4 separate regions of the Homo sapiens genome follow, and regions 2, 3 and 4 are each linked to region 1. Evidence: fine-mapped expression QTL. A gene starts in region 1. Each other region holds a variant in brackets. All regions are shown on one strand. Distances are between the middles of the regions.

What was found. PIP is the estimated chance that this variant, and not a neighbour inherited with it, causes the effect.
Region 2: its variant is the best candidate, but not a certain one, in a credible set for the expression of MFSD6 in nucleus accumbens (GTEx, PIP 0.63).
Region 3: its variant is the best candidate, but not a certain one, in a credible set for the expression of MFSD6 in subcutaneous fat (GTEx, PIP 0.57).
Region 4: its variant is the best candidate, but not a certain one, in a credible set for the expression of MFSD6 in whole blood (TOPMed, PIP 0.50).

What each region holds. Positions count from the first base shown.
Region 1 is chr2:190,404,846-190,410,530 of GRCh38, reverse strand. It overlaps MFSD6 (major facilitator superfamily domain containing 6), which reads right to left and starts at 2,176. Exons shown (of 8, transcript NM_017694.4): 1 at 2,028-2,176. RefSeq lists a silencer at 1,556-2,595 and an enhancer at 2,856-2,905.
Region 2 is chr2:190,454,793-190,460,477 of GRCh38, reverse strand. The region is part of intron 3 of MFSD6 (major facilitator superfamily domain containing 6); the gene reads right to left. It also overlaps a transcript of NEMP2 not described here. Among named protein-coding and RNA genes, the nearest start is that of MFSD6, 49 kb to the right of the region's middle. The variant G/A (reference allele first, on the strand shown) is at 3,300.
Region 3 is chr2:190,480,236-190,485,920 of GRCh38, reverse strand. The region is part of intron 4 of MFSD6 (major facilitator superfamily domain containing 6); the gene reads right to left. It also overlaps a transcript of NEMP2 not described here. Among named protein-coding and RNA genes, the nearest start is that of NEMP2, 52 kb to the left of the region's middle. The variant AG/G (reference allele first, on the strand shown) is at 3,248.
Region 4 is chr2:190,439,401-190,445,085 of GRCh38, reverse strand. All of the region lies in intron 3 of MFSD6 (major facilitator superfamily domain containing 6), which reads right to left. It also overlaps a transcript of NEMP2 not described here. Among named protein-coding and RNA genes, the nearest start is that of MFSD6, 34 kb to the right of the region's middle. The variant G/C (reference allele first, on the strand shown) is at 2,593.

The DNA.
Region 1 (5,685 bases):
ACATGGCTAAATGTTAACATAAGTAATACATGTACATTGAAATCAAGTTAATTTTCAAAGGCACGAAGCTAAGGAAGACATCTGCGTAGGTGGAGAGACTTAATAGGTTCTGATTAGGGAGGGACACCATGTGGAAATTTCCTGGGCTTTGGAGCCAGAAACATGAGGTCAAATTTAACTCTACCTCTTACTGATTATGTGGTTTGTGTAAGTTGCTTAACCCTTCTGAGCTTCCTTTTTGTCATGCACAGAACTAGGGGAAAGATTTATCTTACAGAGATTGAGATACTAAATGTTTACAATGGTGTCTTGAACATAATAAGTACCCAAAAAAATGCCTTAATACTGTTAATAGTCCAGACACTATATATGATGGAATTGGTGATCCAATACTCACACCACCAAATACCTGTGAACTCTGCTTTTTGTCTTTGTGTTTTATTTGCCTTCACGCTTTTATATTTATTTGTATAGAGATGGAAAGTGCCTTAGAAATAAACTGCTGTAAACATGAAGGACACACAACTACTTAGTAGCTTTAATGCATTATTGAAGTGATGTTCTCTCCTCCTGTTTCCCCAGAGCATCCTGCACTGGGCTCATTAACAATGTCCCATCCTTCCCCTAAGCAATCCTAAATTTTACTTACACCTCGTGATAAATACAAGCCATCTGACTATCACTAAACAGCTGACCATATCCTGCACCTCTGCTAGCAGCTTGACGTGTCAAAAGCCAAGCTTCCCAAAGAGGAGGATCCTATCCTTTTACTTAACAAGGCTAAAACAGATGCATACACTTTTAGCTGGCTAGTGCCCACATCTTGGGGAAAGGACCTACCAAGTACACATCTCCTTTTATTACATATTTTAGTCAACTGTATGTCCACCCACCCTTCACATTCATCTATACTTAAGAGGTTAGATTTCTAGAAAATCATGGACTTCTAGAAGGATTAGGGGAAATTTTGGCCACTATAATATCCAACCATCCTCTTTTCCATGTGAGAAAACTGGGGCTCAGGAAGATGTGACATGCCCAAGCACACACATCTATTTAAATACCAGTTGGGATTAGAACCCCAACTCTTTAAGTCTTTTGCACACTAATAAGCAAGGTATTATATGTTCCAGTAGTTCTGTGAGGTGCTTATTCAATCTTTTTGGGATGAAAAGAAACGTCCGTGGTTGCGAATGCATAAAGGTAATTAACCCACCTGTCTGTCCATGTGGGGATGGGATTAACGAGGGGGAAAGTTGCGTTTGTATTTTTCCACCATCTTACCTAAATTTGCAGGAAAATTGCTCTATGGGCAATAAATATGACCCAGAAAGACTAGCAACCCCCAGTAGTATCTCAAAAGGGCTCCAGAGACATGTTAGACCAAGTGGAAGTAAAGCACGAGGTGGGGGATGTCTGCTAGGATGGTGGCTGGCAGAGCAGAGGTATTTTTTTTTCCGTATTTATTAACCTGGGAGGGCAGACGTTGTCAATTTCCTCCTCCTGCCACACAAGTGGCCGCGTCCTTGTCACTGGGGCTGTGTGGAGGTTCTCACCTCCTCCTTTTTCCCAGGGATGTTTATGGCGAGGGCGCGGGTCGGCCCGGGCGGAGGAGGACCCGGGCATCGGCGCTCACCCTCCGTCCCCACCCGCGGCAGCAGCTGTGGGCGCCCGGCGAGGGCTCCCTGGGCAGCGCCTTTGTTTTCCCGACTCCAGTTACGTTTGCGGAAGTGCTGCCAGCACGGGGCGCGCTGGGGGCGCAGGCGGCAGCCTCCCCCAGCACCCCACAAAGATGACACCCGACACGGAAGCCGGGGGAGGGAGGGAGGGAGGGAGCGGCGGGCGAGCGAGGCCCGAGCGGAGACAGCGGCGCACGCTGGGCTCCGAGCCCCGGCCCCGAAGCCCCTTTCCCGGCAGCAGGTGTGCGCGGCTGAGGTGCCTACCCGCCCTCCGGCTGGGCCCGTGCGGGGCGGGGGAGGCCAGGGCGGGTCTGCGAGCCCCTTCTCCGCAAGCCGGGCCCGACTCACCTGCTGCGGCGGCGGCAGCGCTCAGCTGCGCGGGGCGCGGGGAGCCCTGTCCCCGGAGCACGGGGCGGCGGCTCGGGGCGCCGGGGCGGCGGCTGTCGGGGCAGCGCGCACCATCCCGGGCTGCTCGCGCGCTCCTCCGGGGCTGCGACGGGCTGGGCGGGGCGCGGCGAGGCGAGGCGAGGGATGCGGACCGGGTGGGGCCACGGAGGACGGAGGCGGAGGGCCCAGCGCTCCCGCCGGCGCGACCTTCTCTCCCGCTGCGGCTCCTCCTCCTCCCCGGCCCCGGCCTCACAGTCGCCGCCGCCGGTCACTACCGGCTGGACCCGTTTCAGGGCCGGGCGCTGAGGACCGGCCGCCAGGTGCAGCGCTCCGCCTCCTGCGGCGGCGGCGGATGCGTCGACTGCCCGCTCCCGGCCTCCAGCCCGCCCCGGCGGCCCGGAGGGACACCTGAACCCAGCCGGGCCCGGGGAGCACGCTGAGGAGGCGAAAGCACTGGGCGAGGCTCCATCCCTACCGCACCCTCCACCCCCCCGCACCCCCAAGCGACTTCCGCTGAGCCCCCAGGCAATGAGTGCGGGCCAGGAAATGTGGGGGAAAATGTACTAACATCCCTTATTCCTTGAGCGCCTTTTAAGTGGCACACACAATGCTAATGCTGTCAGTGCGTTATCTCCGCGTCTGTCCCAGGTTGACCCGGGAGGGAGGAGCCGGCGGGGTGCGGGAGACAAACGATCTGTGAGTTTCGGGGCTCACCAAGAAGGGGGAACACTGAGACGAAGGCACCCTTTTTCAGGAAGCTGCTACTGGCATCTTGCTGAAAAGCCAACCGTGTGTGTCGCACTAAGAATATAATTAAAGTTGTATTTCTAGTTAAACACGCAGAGAGTTGGGGGAGAGTGGAGTATTCACTTGGCAAGTATGTCTGTGTGCCTGTGATGGGCTTTGGGGGATGCCACATCCTGTTCTTAAGGAGTTTATTGTCTTGTTCTGGCAACAACGACAAGAGTGACAATGGTAGCTAACGGCAACAACGACAAGAGTGACAATGGTAGCTAACGCTTATAAACATCGATTATGTACGGGGCACTGTGTAGGTACTCTTTGAGCCTTATAACCCTATAGGTGTAGGAAACGTTATTCCCATTTTACAACTGAGGAAAGCCGAGGCTGAAAGTTAATGTGACCCATCCAAAGTTACTAAACAGCGAAAGGGAAAGCAGGCTTCTTTTGTCTCCAGGCTTTAAGCTCTTAACCGTGAAATCATACTGGTAAGAATTTGATAGGCCCTGAAGTTTCTGAATTTTGAGTCCCTCTTTAGGAAGAATAAAACAATTACAAATACGAAGTTTCTAGGGCCCCTTCCTGAGCTTATGAAGGGTCTCTGAAGCTTAAACTATAGTAGCCTCATGCTAAATCCACTTTCAATATTGACGTAGATATTCAATCATTTCTTTCTCCAGGCATTTCTTTCTCCTGTCAGGAACACGAGACACTGGTCCCCTCCTTGAAACTCTTCCCTTCTCTTCTTTTGGTGCTCCGTAAGTGTTGGATTTTCCTCCTTGAAACTCTCCCCTCCTCTGCCTTCTGTGACCCACAAGTCTTGGGTTTTCCTCTTCCTCTCTGGCCACTCCCCTTTGCTCCACTTGAGTTTTAGTTTTCCTTGGGTTTTGTTCTAGGCTTTCCTTTCTTCTGATTCTGTTTGTTTCTGCGAATTCTCTCACTCCTTGGCTTCAATCACAGAATATTTGAGGGTGCTCCAAAAGCCCTCTCTCGGGGTCAGCTTTTCTCCTGAGGGCCAGATCCTTATGGCCAGTTGTCCAGTGGGATGTGTCACAGGCACCCCAACCTCACTAAGTGCCACGTCAATGTTTCTTTACCTTCTGTTCTTCCCCTACTCGTTTTTTTTTTTTAAGATGGAGTCTCACTCTGTCGCCCAGGCCGGATTGCAGTGGCGTGATCTCAGCTCACTGCAACCTCTGCCTCCCGGGTTCAAGTGATTCTCCTACCTCAGCCTCCTGAATAGCTGGGATTACAGGCATGTGCCACCATGTCTGGCTAATTTTTGTATTTTTAGTAGAGATGGGGTCTCACCGTGTTGGCCAAGCTGGTCTCAAACTCCTGACCTCAAATGATCCCCCCACTTCAGCCTCCCAAAGTACTGGGATTACAGGTGTGAGCCACTGCACCCGGCCCCTCATTCACTCTTGCTTCTGGGTTCCCAGACTCTGGGGTCCCAAACAGCCATCCACCCAGTTGTACAAGGCCCTTCTTCTCAATGCTCCTTTCACCCTTATACCCATGCCCAGTGTATTAGTTACCTATTGCTGCTGTAACAAGTTATCGTAAACTTTGTGGATTAAAACACACATTTATTATCTTACGATTCTGGAGGTCAAGAGTCCAAAATGGGTTTTAGTGAACTAAAACCAAGGTGACTACAAGGCTGTATTCTTTCTGTAGGCTGTAGAGAATAACCCATTTCTTTTACCTTTTCCACTTCTAGGGGCTGCTCACATACTTTGGCTCATGGACCCTTCCTCCATCTTCAAAGCACACCACTCTAACCTCAGCCACAATCCTCACATTGCCTTTTCTGACTCTGACCCTCATTACATTGGGTTCACCTTCATCATCTAGCGTAATCTCCTCCTTTCAAGAATCTTAATCCCATCATCAAAGTCCCTTTTACCATGAAGCATATTCACAGGCTCCTGGGATTGAGACATGGACATCTACAGCGGGCCATGACTCTGTCTATGACATCCAGTCAGATGCCAAACTCTTGATTCTACCTTTTCAAATATCTCTAGCACCTGTCCTCTTCTCTCCATCCCTGTGCTATCCTAATCTCTGTTATCTCTCCTTTGCCTGCAAAATTTCTCTGGTCTCTCTGCCTCAAAATGTTCTCTCATCCAATCAACTTTTCACTTTGCCACCAAAGTAATCTGTTTTCTTTTCTTTTCTTTTCGACAGGATCTTGCTCTGTCACTCAGGCTGGAGTGCAGTGGTGTGATCATAGCTTACTGTAACCTCGAACTCCTGGGCTCAAGGGATCCTCACACCTCAGCCTCCCAGGTAGCTGGGACTACAGGTGCATACCACCATACCCAGCCAATTTTTAATTTTTTTTGTACAGGTGGAGTCTCACTATGTTTTAGGAGAGGAGCAATGTTGGCTGGTTGCACAGCTAGGAGGTACAATACAATGTGAAGGGTGCCTCATGGTGTTGCACAATCCTATGAGACAGCAAAGAAATTACATGGTAAGGTGTTTGTAAAGATTCTTTTGGTGTTGGGCGTAGTGGCTCATGCGTGTAATCCCAACACTTTGGGAGGCCAAGGTGGGCGAATCACTTGAGCCCAGGAGTTTGAGACTAACCTGGGCAACATGGCAAACCTCATCTCTCAAAAAGTACAAAGATTAGCCAGGTGTGGTGGCATGCCTATAGTCCCAGCTACTAGGGAGGCTAAGGTAGGAAGATTGACAGAGCCCGAGAGGTCAATCTCCCAACCTTAGCAGTGAGCCATGATTACACCTCTGTACCCCAACCTGGGTGACAGAGTGAGACCCTGTCTCAAAGAAAAAAAAAAAAAAGTAACTGTAACCAGTAGCAAGGAGAAAGGTTAACAGTGGCATGGACCACAGTGGTAGTGGCTGG
Region 2 (5,685 bases), 50 kb before region 1:
CTTATTGAACATACTCTATGCTAAGTGCTAGGGATATACACTATGCACATATTATACATGTGTGCATACGCGAGTGTATGTATGATTAAGATATCTGATTATGGTATAGGAATAAGTGATGGGTATGTGAAAGAATGAATGGACTTAAAAAAGAGGCCTAGAAATATATTTAAAAAATAGATGTCTATATTCTGCAACATTTTTGACTAACATTAATAGGCTATGGTTGAAAATAAATATTTTTATTTATGTGGACAAACAATAAATAGCTCAATGAGTAGCTGATTACAGTTTGTTTATTTGGAGCATCCTGACGCACTGTGCAATGGAACTTCAGCACATGCTCTGAGCAGATAACAGGGTTCTGCTCACCACAAGCCTATCTCACCAGAAGAGTAAGAGCTAGGATATAAGCCACAAAGCTCAGAGTCAGTGGTAGTCCCACAGCATAGCTGAAGGGACCACCAAGGAGATCCTGGGAGCCACCAAGCTTCTATCAGCCAGCAGGTATGACTGGCCACTGACCCATCCTTGTAGAACAGAGCATAAGAATCACATTGTATGTCAGAGAGTGAATTAGAAATAATATTTAGCTGTGTATATTTTCTGCAGCTACTAATACTTCCTTCTATTGTTTCTGCTAGAAAGAGAAAAGGTAAAAGTAATTTGGGTCTGAGTCTCTACTAGCTGGAAATCATTTTGTTGTGTTCAGATTCTTCCCTCTAAAATGACTGATAAGCTAAGAGTGTAACTATGGTCACCATCAGCAGGATCACTGTGCTGGTCACTGTGCTGTGACCATGTTTATATCTCTCCATTGTTATTTTAGTTTATCTGTTTTTTTCTTAAGTTGTGTGTATCTCCAGGTAGAAAACTAGAGATGTTTAAAACAAAAGAGAACCTTGATTAATGGAACCCAACCACTTAGAAGACACAATATGCTGTTTTGTTGTTATATTTTTCTGTTTAGTCAAATGACTGAACATATTCACACACACACCCCCTACAATTTTGTTTAAAAATTTCCTAGGATATGGCTTAAGGTATACATATGACACAAACACTATAATTTCCTGAGAAGAATCACTGACATTTGGCATAGCCGTTAATTTTAAAAAGGCCTCAAGAGTTTTACTTGACCCTAAGCTAAATTTGACGAAGCTGAACAAGTTCATCGAAACTCAGGTTGAAGCAATGTCATGACCAAATCAAAAGCAGATACTAATCCTGCTGTTCCTGACTGTGGTGAGACACAGCAGGAATGGGTACAGTTAAGGGCATCACATCTTAAGAGATCACTGACGAAAACAAAAGAGAAAGGAGCCACAATATGGAGGGAGGAAAAAAGGAGTCTTGGATAGGATGTTCTGGGAGAAACCCCTAGGGAGTTGGAGAAGCAAAGCTGCAGGTGAGACTCAAGGATGGGAAGGGCTTTTCTACTGAAGAGGGGATGGACCCACTCTCTACGTCAGACTTGGGAGCAGTCAGTACAACAGATGTTCTTGTTTTACCTTCTGCTAAGCAGAAACTAAGCATGATTCTCTGTTCTCAGCTGAACTTGATCCTAGAGCTGCCTGGGACCTCTGGCGCAGGCCTTATGAGTAAGCCTGCCCAAAAGGAGACAGAGCTAATAGAGGGAGAGATGCAGGTTCTGATCGCGTCATCTGAGACCTGGTTAAAGCTACACCTCTGGTCATTTGCTGGACTTCTCAATTGGACAATACAGTCCCCATTTTACTTAAGCTTCTCTGGGTAAGGATTTTTGCCACTTTCACTGAAAGAGTCTCAAGTGACCTCCACTGCCTTTGGAGACAGCAAGTTCCATATCTCTAGAAACGGTCAAGCAAAGGCTAATAACCATCTGTCAAGCACTCGGGGGGAAGGGAATCTAAAACTGGGGTGAAGCTAGGCCTACAGGACTGTATTAGTTTGCTAAGGCTGCTGTAACAAATACCACAGACTGGGTGGCTTCAACAACAGAAATTTATTTTCTCACAGTTCTGGGAGCCAAAAGTCCAAAATCAAGGTGTTGGCAATGTTGGTTTCTCCAGGGCCCCTCTCGTTGGCTTGCAGACAAGTCATCCTCTCCCTGTGTCATCGCCTATCTTCCCTTGTGCCTATCTGTGGCCCCAATCTCTTCTCACGAGGACACTGCTCATAACAGATGAGGGCTGACCCTAATGACCTGATTTTAATTTCATGACATCCTTAAAGACCCTAACTTTAAATATGGTCACACTCTGAGGTACTGTGGGTTAGGACCTCAACGTATGAATCTTCAGGGGCCACAATTCAGCCCATTAAAATGCCCTTCGAGGTCACTTACAACTCCAACATCAAGCAAACTTGAGTAAAGAATGCCAGTATTTTTTTCCAGAGCCATTTCCTCCCTAGACCAGCAACAGAGTGTGTGACACCGCTGGCAGCTTCCTCGGGCCTCAACAGTCAGAGTGAGGCTGTATCCTTAGAGGAGGACTCTTCGCATTTTGTACAACCTAATCTGACCATATTTACTCATTTACTTTATTTCATGAATTGCTATTTGCTTTTCCAGTGGTTGAGGTCAAATGAAAACCTTTTACAAACAGTGCTAATTAATCTGGTTTTAAAATGGGCAGCATGGCGGGGCATATGCTGCACGCTGGCCAAGGTGGTGGCATCCAGGGCACATGCATAGTTGAGGTGGACTTTCTCAGGAGTGGTCATAACTGCTTTGGTTATACTAGAGTTTTGAAAAGATTAAACAAGCATGTAAAGAAAAACTGCAAAACACTGTGCAAATATGTAAGCTACCATTAAATTAAATGCAAATATTTCAGCAATAACAGCCACATCTTTTACAAATTCTGCCTGAGCCAGTACATGCAGAAGTGTCTGAGATTTGGGGTCCTAACTTCCATTCAGGTCAATTGGCTTCAAGGAAATAAAATTCTCTATGTAGATCCCAGCAACTGCTATCATAAAACACATCCCCTATCACTGGCTAGATGGTCTGTTTGAATGGCTTTGTGCACATTTTTGACTTGTCAGCAAAAAACACGCAAAGTCTGAGTCCTGGGGGTAGGGGGCCAACAGGAAGAAGTGGGGTCTGCTAGGTGGTTTTTTTCACATACTAAAACCAGCCAAAGAAGAAAGTTAGATCATTAGAGTCAGAACTGAAAGGAGCCATAGCATCCAGCTCGCTCTTTTCACAGAGACAAGGAAGGAGAGGGCCACAGGGGTGGACCGGGGCCACAAAGTCGGTTGGCCAGTGGAAGTCAAGGTCCCCATCCCCCTGCCAGACCATGCTCTTTCAGTAG[G/A]TAATAGCAATGTGCTATTTTCCACACTCCAAGCTCCCTACATGAAATCAAACCTAGACAAGGGCTTGAGGAAATACCTCTGGATTGGACCATAAGAAACGGACTAGCAGTGTTAGTGTAGATAGACTTCTGGACTTCTGAACTCAGCTGTGCGCGCGGATTAAGGAAGCTGGATGAACGTTTATGTTGGCATCAGAAGACGGTTGACATTTTAAACTTTGACGAGTCATTGGGAAGACTGGGGTAAGAGGAAAGTAGAAAAGCAAATGCCACTCAACAGTTGTCCAATATCCTAGATCAAAGGAGAAAAGCTTACCCAGAAGCAAAATTCTGTGTTATGAGAAGAAATGCGCTGAAAGATCATTTCTGCTGAGGTAGCCACAGAAACTGCAGGTATCGATGCTGAGGCAGGACGAGGGGTGAGCCAAGGTTTCCACCTCTTACCTGCAGCTGGACATGAGCTGTATCAAGCAGGCAGACTTTAAATAATCAGAAGTGGATGCTTGCCTTGTCAGGGATGGGGCACCATACACAGGATTGTGAAAGGAGAGGGGTGTGAACAGGCCACAGAGAGAATGGCAGGGACAGAGCTGTCCAGAGTCTCCCTCTTGGGCTTAGGCCATGCCATCAGCCCTGCAGGTTCCTAGAGCAGCCAGGGAGTTCCCGGAGTGGGGCTCATATCACCAGCGGGTTGAAAGGAGCCCCGATCTTTTCCATTCCTCAATTCCTGATGCGGCTCCACAGATCTCACAACGAAGAGTCTGAGCCAGGCCAGAGGCATCACTGGCTTTAGGGTCATCTCCCTCTCTGTCATTCCTGAACATTCACTAGCACTCAGACTGAAGTCAATGCAGTTCCCACTCACCATGCTAAACACCTTCTCTGTCTGAAGTGAAATTTAAGTCATGGATTTTTCAAGTAAGGAAAAAAGTAGAGCAGGCCAGGCATGGTGGCTCACACCTGTAATCCTAGCACTTTGGGAGGCTGAGGCGGGTAGATCACCTGAGGTCAGGAGTTTGAGACCAGCCTGACCAACATGGTGAAACCCCATCTCTACTAAAAATATAAAAATTAGCTGGGCATGGTGATGCATGCCTGTAATCCCAGCTACAAGAGAGGCTGACACAGGAGAACTGCTTGAACCCAGGAGGCAGAGGTTGCAGTGAGCCGAGATCATGCCGCTGCACTTCAGCCTGGGTGACAGAATGAGACTCAGTCTCAAAAAAAAAAAAAAAAAAAAAAAAGCAGAGTAAATACAATTACAGTAGACTCCTTCCTACCTCAAACCTGTCAACTTGAACTTTTATGGCTAGAAATTTTGCTCTATTCTGTTTTTAAATGAGGAACTGTAACTGATATAGTTTTTTCCAACCACTCATGTCCTTTCTTTTGTGACAGGAATCACAAAAAAAAAAGGAAGGGCATCAGTTCCAGCAATCTCTGAGACCTCCGCACGATGCCCCTGCACCGTGCCCACCCTCCATACTAACAATTCTATAATGTTCTCCAATTTTTAAGCATTTTTTTCCACTTCATATCTCATGTATTTCTGCCCATAATCTTCTGAAACAGGAAGGATAAGCGTTGTTATTAATCCTCTTTTACAGCTGATGAAACCAAGGCCCTGAAAGGTTCACCAAGTTGCCAGGGTCGTGCAGATCAACAAACTGCAGAAGCAAGACTCAACCAGGTCTTCTGCTGTCAAATCCTGTGCCCTTCCCATGGCCAGCAGAGCCTCCCCCAGCTGGATCAGAAACCTTTCAGGGAAATTTAGAAGGTGCTTTCTTTCATACACACAAAAAGTAGTGATCACTTAACCTTAAAATCTTGTTTCACAAAGATGTTGTAATATTATACCTATACTTAAAACGTTAGATTTCTAATAAAATTTAATTAATAGAGCTATGAATAACTTAATAGTAATAATGAAAGTCATAGTAATTAATAGTAACTTAATAAATAGCAATAAAATAGCAATGATACTAGTCTCTATTTTGATGATACCAATATTAGTGTCTAATGTATACAAAAGAGCATGGGATTATAAACTAGACAACCTGGGCTAAAGTCTCCAACTCCACCACTCAGAAGGGACTTTGGGCAAAAAGCAAATCTGTTCCTTTCCAGGCTTGCATGGTGGATCTGCTTACCAACACACATATACATATACATATACATTATACATATACATATACATATACATATACATATACATATACATATACATATACATATACATATACATACAGAAACCAGGAACACATATACATACAGAAAAATACAAGTTTGCCGTTGCCGGACTCACTCCTACCATCATCCCACTATGTTAGGCCATAGGTCCCTATTCTAGTGTCTTCTGACTCTTAGAATCTTTGGGGATCCCATC
Region 3 (5,685 bases), 75 kb before region 1:
GTTTTTACTGGGTACATTAGATTGTATGCCTCACAGTTGACTAAGAAACATTAAAATAACTTTCTTAGGTTTTATATATGTTTCAGTCATCATTTTAACTAGGTTTTTTTTTTTTTTAACTAGTAAGATGGACTAGATGATTAGCAGTAGCATACACAGTTAATTTCCTAAGAAGTCAAATAACGTGTTTGCTTTATCTGGCAAAACAATTGCAATACCCTAGATAATGCCAGCTTTCTCAGAATTGAATAATGCCTGGATAGTCTTAATTATGAGTGTTGACACCATAGTACCTAATGGGAATAATTGTAAGTATTTTCATTTCTATTATTAAAGATGATGCTAAGTCCATTTCTTTTCACATATGCAGATTTTTTTTCATTAACCACACTGGGGGAAAAACTCAAAAATATTCCAAGAAATAAATTAATTTATTCAAAATTAATTAGATTCAATAGCAAAATCCAACACAGATTTGGAAATCATTTCTTAAAGATGAATTACCGAAAACCTGAAAACACATCAAATGGTAGTAGGTTAACTTTAATGCTGACGCCAAACCTCTTGTTATGTGTATGTCTAAGCAATCAATTGCAGGATTTACAAGCAACCAAAACATTAAAATATATTTATTATAATTCTAGATAAAAAACAATTCTAGCAGTTATTCTTTTAAGTGTGAAGGCTTGGACACACACAAACTCTTCCAACCACAGGGTTTGTATCTATTTTCCCCCTCTCAGAAATTCTAATCATTTTCTAAAACTTTGAGTGTTCTAAGATAATTAAAGCATTTTCCAGTGGGATGACTTAAGTCAGGATGCTTTTAAACTATTCTTAGAATTTACTGACTAGTATTAAGTGGTAGTTGTAAAAGATTCTCCACAGTTAGACTTCTAGTTTCTATATTGCTTTTGAGACTGATTAGATAATTGGGAATTACATTCTTTAAATTAACTCAGGGAATTAAGTGAAGGAAAAAATAGTAAAGCACAAAAACAAAATTTCTGATACTAAAAGCAGAAGAATGAAAGCCACTCTGCTTGTATGCTCTGATGTTTTCCAGGGCAGATACAGGATTAAAATTGATTTCCCTAAAATAACTTATTTTAAGATATCGTATAAGTGAAGAAGCAATTAAATTCATCTCATTTCTTAGATAGGAAACCAGCAAAATGTAGCAATCCGTAAGAAGGGATTAAATTAGAACATCATCTGTGTATACAAAAGACAGTGGTGGAGCTGCAGTTCTCGTTCATAAACTGGAACATGCAACTTTCTAGTAATCTTAATAATCTGAAGCTCTTGCCAATGTTTTTACTACATTTGTGTTCTGATTCTCTCGTTTTAAAATAACAAAAAAAGCAACCTAGAAACTTGAAAACCCTCCGCCATTTCCCATATTTGTAAGACAAGATTTAGGAAGTCTTAGGAATTGTGCTACCGAAAACGACATTCCTGTAAAGTAGAGGGGACAAAAGATATTATAAACTAGAAAAAGAAAATGCTTCTACTTTCTTAGTTATTAGAGAACTGTGAAAAAGCAGTAGATGATTATTCTTTATGTGATGAAATAAGCACATTTACTCAGTGGCATGGGTAAATGTGTTTACACTAGAATTACAAATTTTTAAACCTTTTTAAGTATGAGATAACAAAGTTGGTAGATCAAACAGTCAAAATACAAGCTATTACTCCCTGACTGACAACAGTAACAAGGGCACAGGAACTGACTCTCCTTGCAATGTGTTAACTCTTCCATGGCTGCTTGTCATAAAACCACTGAGCCTTCAGTGACAATTCAATACCAACTCACATAACAGGTGCTTAAATATATTGATTGAGAATGAATGACTCTCAGAGACCAAGTAGTCCACATAAACTTAGTTTCTCAGTCCTTCCTTACCTTTACTGGGATCCCCCAGGATTGGCTTTGAGGCACAGTAAAAATCAAGAGATATATCCACACTACCTACTGCCAAGACTTTACTTGGGATCCATTACATTTGAATAACCTAGAATCATTAAAAATAATTATGAGTAACATTAATTGTTTTCGTTAACTTTTTTTTTTTTTTTTTTTTTGAAAATGAGTTTCACTCTTGTTGCCCAGGCTGGAGTGCAATGGCGTGATCTCGGCTCACCGCATCCTCTGCCTCCTGGGTTCAAGCAATTCTCCTGCCTCAGCCTTCCGAGTAGCTGGGACTACAGGTGTGTGCCACCACGCCCAGCTAATTTTCGTACCCTTAGTAGAGACAGGGTTTCACCATGTTGGCCAGGATGGTCTTGATCTCTTGACCTCGTGATCTGCCTGCCTCGGCCTCTCAAAGTGCTGGGATTACGGGCGTGAGCCACTGCGCCCAACCCTGTTTTCATTAATATTATCACATCAGCTTACTCTACAAGGAATTGTGCTAAGTGTTTTACACAGATTATTGAATCTATTCCTCCAATAGGTACAGTACTATTTTTTCTTCATTTTCCAAAAAGGAAACCAAGGCACAGAGATATTAGATGCCTTGTCCAGAGTCACACAGAGAAGAGAGTTGTTGAATAGGATTTGAACCCAAGGTGTCCAAGTTCAGAGCTTAGGTGCTTAAATATTACACTATATGTTCTCATAACAATTGTTAGAAGTATTCTATAGTAAATGTAACTATCTACTTTGAGAGATTTTGTTGTTAATATCAAACATACCCCACAAGCTACCAGTTTAAAAGATGATAGTCGGCCGGGCGCGGTGGCTCACGCCTGTAATCCCAGCACTTTGGGAGGCCGAGGCGGGTGGATCACGAGGTCAGGAGATCGAGACCATCCTGGCTAACAAGGTGAAACCCCGTCTCTACTAAAAATACAAAAAAATTAGCCGGGCGCGGTGGCAGGCGCCTGTAGTCCCAGCTACTCGGGAGGCTGAGGCAGGAGAATGGCGTGAACCCGGGAAGCAGAGCTTGCAGTGAGCCGAGATTGCGCCACTGCAGTCCGCAGTCCGGCCTGGGCGACAGAGTGAGACTCCGTCTAAAAAAAAAAAAAAAAAAAAAAAAAAAAAAAAAAAGATGATAGTCTTAATAACTCTTCTCCACCCTTTCTGAAGAGCTGACATGTCATCTATATTGTTTTTTAAATGCCCCAAATACCTTATAACACTCAACACTGGTATCTGATTGTACAACATGCATTTCAAAATTGTTCAGTCTTGGCCCACAAGAATGCTCTACTGAAATAAATGGCATGTATGAGCAGGAAAAAA[AG/G]TCCTTTCTTCTTAAGGAGACAGCTGCTCTTTGTAAACTGTTGCTTGGCTTGGGGAAATCACATTATAATGGCTGGGAGGAGTGAGAACTGACACAGTACTAGGGAACTAGGATTGTTTTGTTTTTCTTCCTTCTGCCACTGACTTAAGCTTACTGAACAAAACATAACTATCCCTTTAGCATTGGCACACAGAATCAGCTGTGACAAACCTTTCCCATGAATAGACCAAAGCATACATTTCAATTAGTTCTGGGATTAAAAAAAAAAAAAAAGGAAAGCTTCCGAAAGGTCAACTTGGTGAAAATCAGTAAGAGACTATTCTTCCTAAGGAAAGGCCTCCATTGGGCAGGCAATAAAAGAAAAAGTCTATATTGGAAATCTTAGTGGTTTCACACATTAAATGTTTTCTTTTCTTGCTCACACAAAGTCCAATGAACAGGAGACAGGAGTAGTAGCAGCTCTGCTCCATAGTCATTCAGGGATCCAGGTTACAGAGAATCTGCCATCTGCAATGCCTGGTTACCCTAGGTATCAATATCCAGCTGACAGAGAAGGGAGTGACACACCTCTGCACCTGACCCATACAATTTCCCACGTGCTATCCTTTCCTCCTATCATTTCTGCTTTTATTCCGCTGGCCAGAATTAACCACATGGTCATACCTAACTGCAAGGGAGGCTGGGAAATAGAATCTAGCTGCATGTCCACGAAGAAAAGGAAACAGAGATGGTGAGTAGCAAGCCAGTCTCTCTGTCAGAGTTGGGGCTACTAACAGCAATACACCTTCCACAAATGGCGGAGGATCCTACAAAGAGCAATGGACTTAGCAGCAGCAGCAGCATGGATCTTCTGTGTGCTGCACGAAAGAAAGTTTATATAAGACATGCAACAATTTGTGTTAAAAGCCAACATTCCCACACCTATTGATGTATAGGACTGCAAGAATCCCCTTCATGCATTCAACAGTATTTACTCAGCATCTATATTATGTGCCAGATAGCCTGCTAGGCTTTGAAAATATGACAATATGCAAAATAATGTCCCCAGCCACCAAGGAGCTTACAGTCTGGCAGGTGAAAGGGGGCAGGATTTATCTAAAGGGGACGCAGACTGAGCTCCTTGAGAACAGACATATCCAGCACCCAGCAGAGGGCTGACATGTAACAGCAGCTGAACAAAAGGACATTGAACTGAAACAGGGTAGGCAGTGGTCTACATGTTGGGATATGACGAAGAAAGCATTTATGGATAAAAGGTACCCTGGGTAAGGTTGGAGAAAACTTCCAAATCCCATATATAAGTAAAAGTGGACAGAGGAAATAAAATAGTAGATCTCTTCTATAAGCTCTAGCTTGCAAACTTAAAAAAATATATGAGTTGCTTAAAAAAAGTCTATAACTGATGTAACAATGTTCTAGGGGGCCCTCGTGAATTTTTACATGCTGGCATTATGCCTTTGGCATACCTTTAAGCAGGTTTTAGGAGACTACCACCCAAAACCCAGGGAGTTTAATGTTAAGACTTGGCAACATTATACTACACGCCCAGTGTTTTCCCACCTGAAGCCACACATGAGAACTGCTTTTCTATCAGCCAATAAAGATTTCACTTATCTTCCTCAAAGATAACTTTATTAATAGTGTGCACTGACTAGCCACATTTCCCTTACGCTTTGGTCATTAGGCTTCAGCTTAATTCATAGCCAGGCTTTAATGCATAATTGAAGTTTAACTCCTTAGAATAGGATCTTTTAAATTATATTTTCTCTGATCCTGATTTATATTTATTTATAATTTATTTTACTTTTTTGTATTGTATGTTTTCTAACATTTATTAGAAGCTAACTGTGGGTCAGGTACTGTGCTAAATACTTTGCATGGATTAGTGTATTTAATACTCATGTCAACCTCTCCTATAACTCAAGAGTCTGTGGCTTAGAGAGATTAAGCATTTTGTCCAAAGACACAGAGCTTATAGGTAGGGGAGTTAGAATTCAAACCCAGATAGTCTAATTCAAGCCTTAGCACTTTATGGTTTCCGGATTATTGCATATTTTGGTAATCTGCCTCAGCTAACTTATAGAGTGAGGTGAGGGTATAAGTACTAATTAAAATACATGGGTGATTTTACAGATGTGTTATGGATGGCAAGATGTCATCCTAGGAAGAGCTTTCATAATGAAGGTTCAGCTTTAAATTTAATTTTCAAATTTTCTTCAGATACTTAATAAGTTTTTGAGATAGAATTTCTTATATCATTCAAAAGATATAAAAATTATAAACTACTAACTATAGTACATGATACAGGGGGCTGAAAAATGAATTAAACAACAAGCATTAATAGTGTATCTTCCTATATGTACATCTCTTTGGAGAACTGAAAAAGTATAAGCATGGCCTTTATGTTCAAGGGTTTAAACTAAGTTAGACAATAAAA
Region 4 (5,685 bases), 35 kb before region 1:
CAGGCCAGTTCAACTCAAAGGGCCTCACTTAACACCAAGGCCTACTCTGAAGGGTGCAAGACTTCAGGCTTGTATCCTCAGGTGGGCTGTAAAATAAGAGGCCTGGACTACACTAGCTCTAAATTTGTTACCCAGTATGCTACAGTTAATTTACCAAGATACATAGTGCAAAAACAAGGAAAAAGATTAACGTCACTTTTTACTATGATTTTGTATAAAATAATTGGAATTTAAAATAGGGCACAAAACATTATCTTTATGAAACACTTGTTTCTGAATGAAATGGAGGATGGTTTTAGCACCCTAATACTCAGTTTCAAAACTGTAACAATAAAGTTACACAAGATGATATAAATTCTAACCCCTGTAGAAATGTTGGACTGATTATCCAATTTCAGGAGTTACAGTGTGGCTTTATGTTTGTTTTCTTTAGTGCTTTGCCATGGTTTTTATATAATAAATGAAAAACACAAACAAAAAACACAAAACTGAGTTGTGGAGAATGATGACTTCGATGGAACCATAAAATCTCCCCTACACTAAAAAGAAAAGAACACACAGCCACTTTACATCTGCAATCCACCTTCCTCAGACCTTGTGAGTAAACTCCTGTTTCACTGCTACAGAGCACTCATTTATTTCACATTTTAAAAACTGACACTGATATTACAGTAGAACTGATGTTGTGGCTAAACTATATTCTACAGTGCCTATAAGTTGGCTGGCAGGATTCCACATGGAATCTTCGTACCTCTGTGAAAAACTGGGCCATGACCAAGAATACTCATACACTGGGCTTAAAGCCACAGTCAATTACTTGTACTGCTCTGGCAGAGAAAACACAGGCCAAACAGGTCTCATTTCACCAGTGCTAAGAAAAGTTATTACCTTTTATTTCATTAACTAGTCAGATGACATCAAATCAACAGTTTTTTTACACATATCCTACAAAATTGAAAGTATAAAAGTACTTCATTTTCTAGTACTGATTAACTTAATTAGACTACTCATTTTTTCTCCTTTTCTTTTTTGAAACAGGGTCTTGCTCTGTCACCCAGGCTGGAGTGCAGTGGTGTGATCACAGCTCACTGCAGCCTTGACTTCCTTTTGGGCTCAACAGATCCTCCCAGCTCAGGCTCCCAAGTAACTGGGACTACAGGCGTGTGACACCATGCCCAGCTAATGTTATTTTTTGTAGAGACAAGGTCTCACCATGTTGCCCAGGCTGATCTCGAACTCCTGGGCTCAAGACATCCTCCTGCCTCAGCCTCCCAAAGTGCTGGGATTATAGGTGTGAGCCACACCCAGACTAGACTAATCTTTAAGAAGACAACCTTTGTTTATAAGAGCAAAAGATTCTATTATATAAAGGCTGTATCAGGAGTGCACTTCCAATTTGATATAACTCCATTTCATTTGAAAATCTATGGTCATCAGAAATTTGGGGAGAAAAATTTCAATTTGACTAAGATGTTTAAGGGGGAATGTTAGTTATTTTGAAAATCATAAACATCTTGACTTTGCAGGTTTAATCATCTGTACACTTCTGATATTGTACTGTCAACTTGTATTTTTATCAACTTCAATGGGTCTTGTAGTTATAAACAGCATAATATATCAGACTGACAGAAAAAAAGTAAAATAAGCTGAACTCCTAATCTATGCTGGTCATTGTTGAAGCAATTGCCATGTTTTATCTCATCTAGTCTTCATAAAAAACCCTAAGAAGCAGGTACTAATAATATCCCTATTTATAGATAACAATACAGAGATGCAAAAAGTTCTGTAACTTGTCCAAGGCCATATAGTTCCAAGTTGCAGAGCCAGGCAATCTGACTCAGCCTCTGCTCGTAACCACCATACAATCCTTAAAGTCCTGTTCCTTTTATTTTTTTTCTCCCTTGCTTATGTCTTAGGCCCACCTAGGAACACCCACAGAGGGTTCCTGGCTCAGGTGATGATATTGGGGGGTGCTCAGAAAGTCCATTGCTGCTAAAACAATATATAGAAACAGGTTACGGTAATACCATAATGACAGTTCCATATAACACAAAATATTCTCAAGCATAAGGATACTTACTTTAAGCAATAAAGCACAGACCAACATTTCAATAAATCAGAAACTTGAAATACTATCTTGGAGACAATTATAATTGATTTTCCTCAGCCCATTTCTCTTCTTAGACGACAAGATTTCCTTGTTGATCTTATCCACATTCCCGATTTTCACTGCTGCAAATCTGCATCCCGTCCTAACCTCTCCTATAAGCTTCAGACTTACAATATTGTGTCAACTGCCTGCTAGACATCCCCATCTAGATGTTTCAATTTCAAACCAAACAATCACACCCCCACCCCATTCTACATCTCCTTTCTGAATTTCCTATTAGATTTTTGGAATTACCATACCAAGCTGGAAATGTAGGGGTCTCTACCTCACTTCCACATCCAAATAATTCTGTCAATTTTACCTCCCAGATCTATTCCTTCCCTCAATTTCTGTTGCTACTGCTGCAGTTCAGGCCTGTACCGTCTCTTACTTGGACTATTTTAAGAACCTTCTCAGTGGGCTCCTGGCTTCAAAGTTACCCT[G/C]CATAGCAACATTCAAAGCAGGGAGGAACATATGAAAATCTATGGTCCTCCCTGCTTTGAACCTTGCTATGGCTACCTACTGCCTCCAGATGAAATTCAGGTTACTGATCCCAGCATCCATCTGGCCTCAGTCTCTCCTGTTTTTTCCAACACGCTTCCCTTTAGTATTCAGCCCCTGCATCTTACTAATCTGAGGCTCTTTGGGCCTAAATAACTGTTCAACTAAATTGAACAAATGTCTAGGATTTTGATTTTTAAGTAATATAGAATAATACTTGGTCCTCTAGAGCATGTAGAATTCATAATTCCAAATTTACTATGAGAATTAAGTCATCTTTTAAAACATTTTTATTGTGGTAAAAACCATTTTTAAAGAAGAATTAATCCTCCCTTAAGGAATCAGAATGGGGAAAAAGTTATTTAAGGTCTACCATCTTTTTGCTTTTTAATCAATAATTGAGTTATTCTATTTGTATTCTGTTTCTTCACAGTATCAATTGCCATCAGGAGTCTTTGTAAGTAGTGAAGAGTGGTGGATCAGGATCTCATCAGAGGCAGGCACCAATCTGACTTAATTCAGGGACTTGGTTAGGTAGGTGACAGAAAAGCTGGGAAGCCAGACCACTGTGAGAACCACAGGCAGCCTCTCCACGGCCTTGGGCAGAAGAATAAAGAGAGGAGAGAATGTTGTTGGAGCTCAGGGCCACCCACAGTGGGTGGGGCATAGGTGAGACGCAGCAGCTCACAGAGGTCTCTAGAGCTGAGGAGACAAGGCTGAGAGTCTGGGAAGCGGGACAGAGTACCCACGTGGAGAAAGCTACAGAGAGAGAGGACTGTAGAGATCTGTAGCTTCCCTAGAGTCTTCAGCTGAGTACTGACCAGCACATGTACATAAGTAAACTACAAGAGGCCAGAGAGAGGACTAGAGGGAACCATCTCCAAATCTTACACAAACATGCTGCATGAGCTGGAAAGAGAAATATAAATGCCCTGCTTTCCCCCCAACCCCCGCCCCTCCTCCTTTCCTGTAATCCTCCCCTTACCTATGCCTCCCATTAGCCTGGTGGTTCTCAACCTTGGCTGCACAAACTAGAATCAACTAGGAAGCTGTAAAAACGTTGAATGCCTCGGTACACCCCTAGAAAGACTGATGTAATTGGTCTGGGTGCAACCTGGGCATTAGGAGCTTTAAAAGCTCTCTTGGTGAGTTGAGAACCAATACATTAGCCGAACCCAAGTAGAAGACACGAGAACAGACCCTGGAAAACATAGCCTACAGAAATCAGCACCCTTTCATACGGGGCAAGGAGAGGATCTGAGAGCCTGTGGGCCTAAGATCAGCAAAGATGGCACAAAGAGATGGGTAGAAATAAGATGATGAGAAGAAGGAGAAAAAAAAGTAGGCATGATCTTCCTTAAACCCTTCAGTGGCCAGCTCACATTGAACACCCGGCTGCAGAGTTTCTTCCCTCTTATAATACTTACTGCTATTCCTCCAGTGACCAGACTATCATGTGCCACCTCCCATGTGTCCTTGGCTGTGCTGAAGCCCAGCATCTTGCTATCTGTTCTGGTTCATCCTGCAGCATCCCATCAGGAAACCCTGGTGTTCCTCCTCTTACTAGCTGCATCAGGTATTTTCTTCTTTCCCAAACTGACTGGCTAGTTCATTTGTATATTTTGCTAATATTAAGTAGTAATTGATGGCTAATAATAGGTAATGTAACCCCCCCGGATAATATTTGCATGGCAAAACAGACCTTGAGTGTAAGAATTTCAGGGCAAAGTCACAGATTGATTGAATAGATTTTTCTGTGTCCCTTAAAATGTAAATAAATTTAAATCAAATAACATAGGGGATGGCCTAACATTGGAAAGTAATGATTTACAAATTTACAAATGATTTACTGCAATGTATTTTGATTATAATCCTACTCATAGCTGCTAAAATGTTAAGCAATGTGAAGATACCTTAAGATACATTTATATCCTGTTAATCATTTATAGCCTAAAAATATACTTGCTGTAAATTCCAAAGTCTTATGATTTTGGATCAAAAGAAATTTATTTTTAAAAGTGGAAATATTTAGCATTATTATCCTATTTGCCTGAGAAAGTCACCTTCCAGAGAAGGACAAAATCCAAGGTCAAAATCAGAAATCAGATACTCTATGTGTGTGTGTTTAGACTGACAGGTCAGTCCCTGAGAAACTGGTTGTATATTGTGAAACTGTTAAAATACTGAGTTCAAAACTGGACATGCTATTTTTAAAAAACTATTTTCTGGTATGAATCTTTCTTATTATTACTCTAGATGAAGAATTTGTGAATCTCCACAAATATATGGTAGTGCCAACTCCTAAAAACAAACTTCCAACAGGACAACCACAAAGTACTGAAATAATATACATGCATGCATAAAGGCCATGGGCAGATCTACTTCTGTGATCCTACAAGCAACACATCAAGGCTCATAATTCAGAGATCATTTCTCTTCACCAACTACTTAATGAATGGTATTCTTCCAGTGGAAAGTTTAAATCCCCAAATCACAACCAATACCACCTGACTGAGCTCCCAAAATTATCACTAAAAGGAACAGATCCATTCTACCTAAGTATGTGGACATATTCTCATTTTAGCTATCAGACTCTTTTAAAAGCACTTGAAATAATTAATACATTTTAATGGACAGAATGAAAATTCAAAACAGGTAAATGACCACATACTGATGGAATTCCCACAGACTCTTGGGAGCAATATGACCATAACAGCCATCTTCTTCCATCACATTATTAAACAAGAAATGGAAGATGCTTTTTGTCCGTAAAAACCAGAAAATTAAGGTTAAGTGAATTTTGAAATGATGAGTAACTAATACTACACAGGAAAGAAACACACAAGTCTAAGCTTACCAAAGGAGTAGTAAACCCACTAGGATTTTATCATGAAAATGCTGCATATGTCTCAGACAAAAGGCAAAGGTAGAAGAGAACCATCTTTTCTTAGCATGTGGAAATAACCTAACAATTCCTTTGAAAATAGAACCTATCTATACACATGCAACAAATCTGCACGTTGTGCACGTGTACC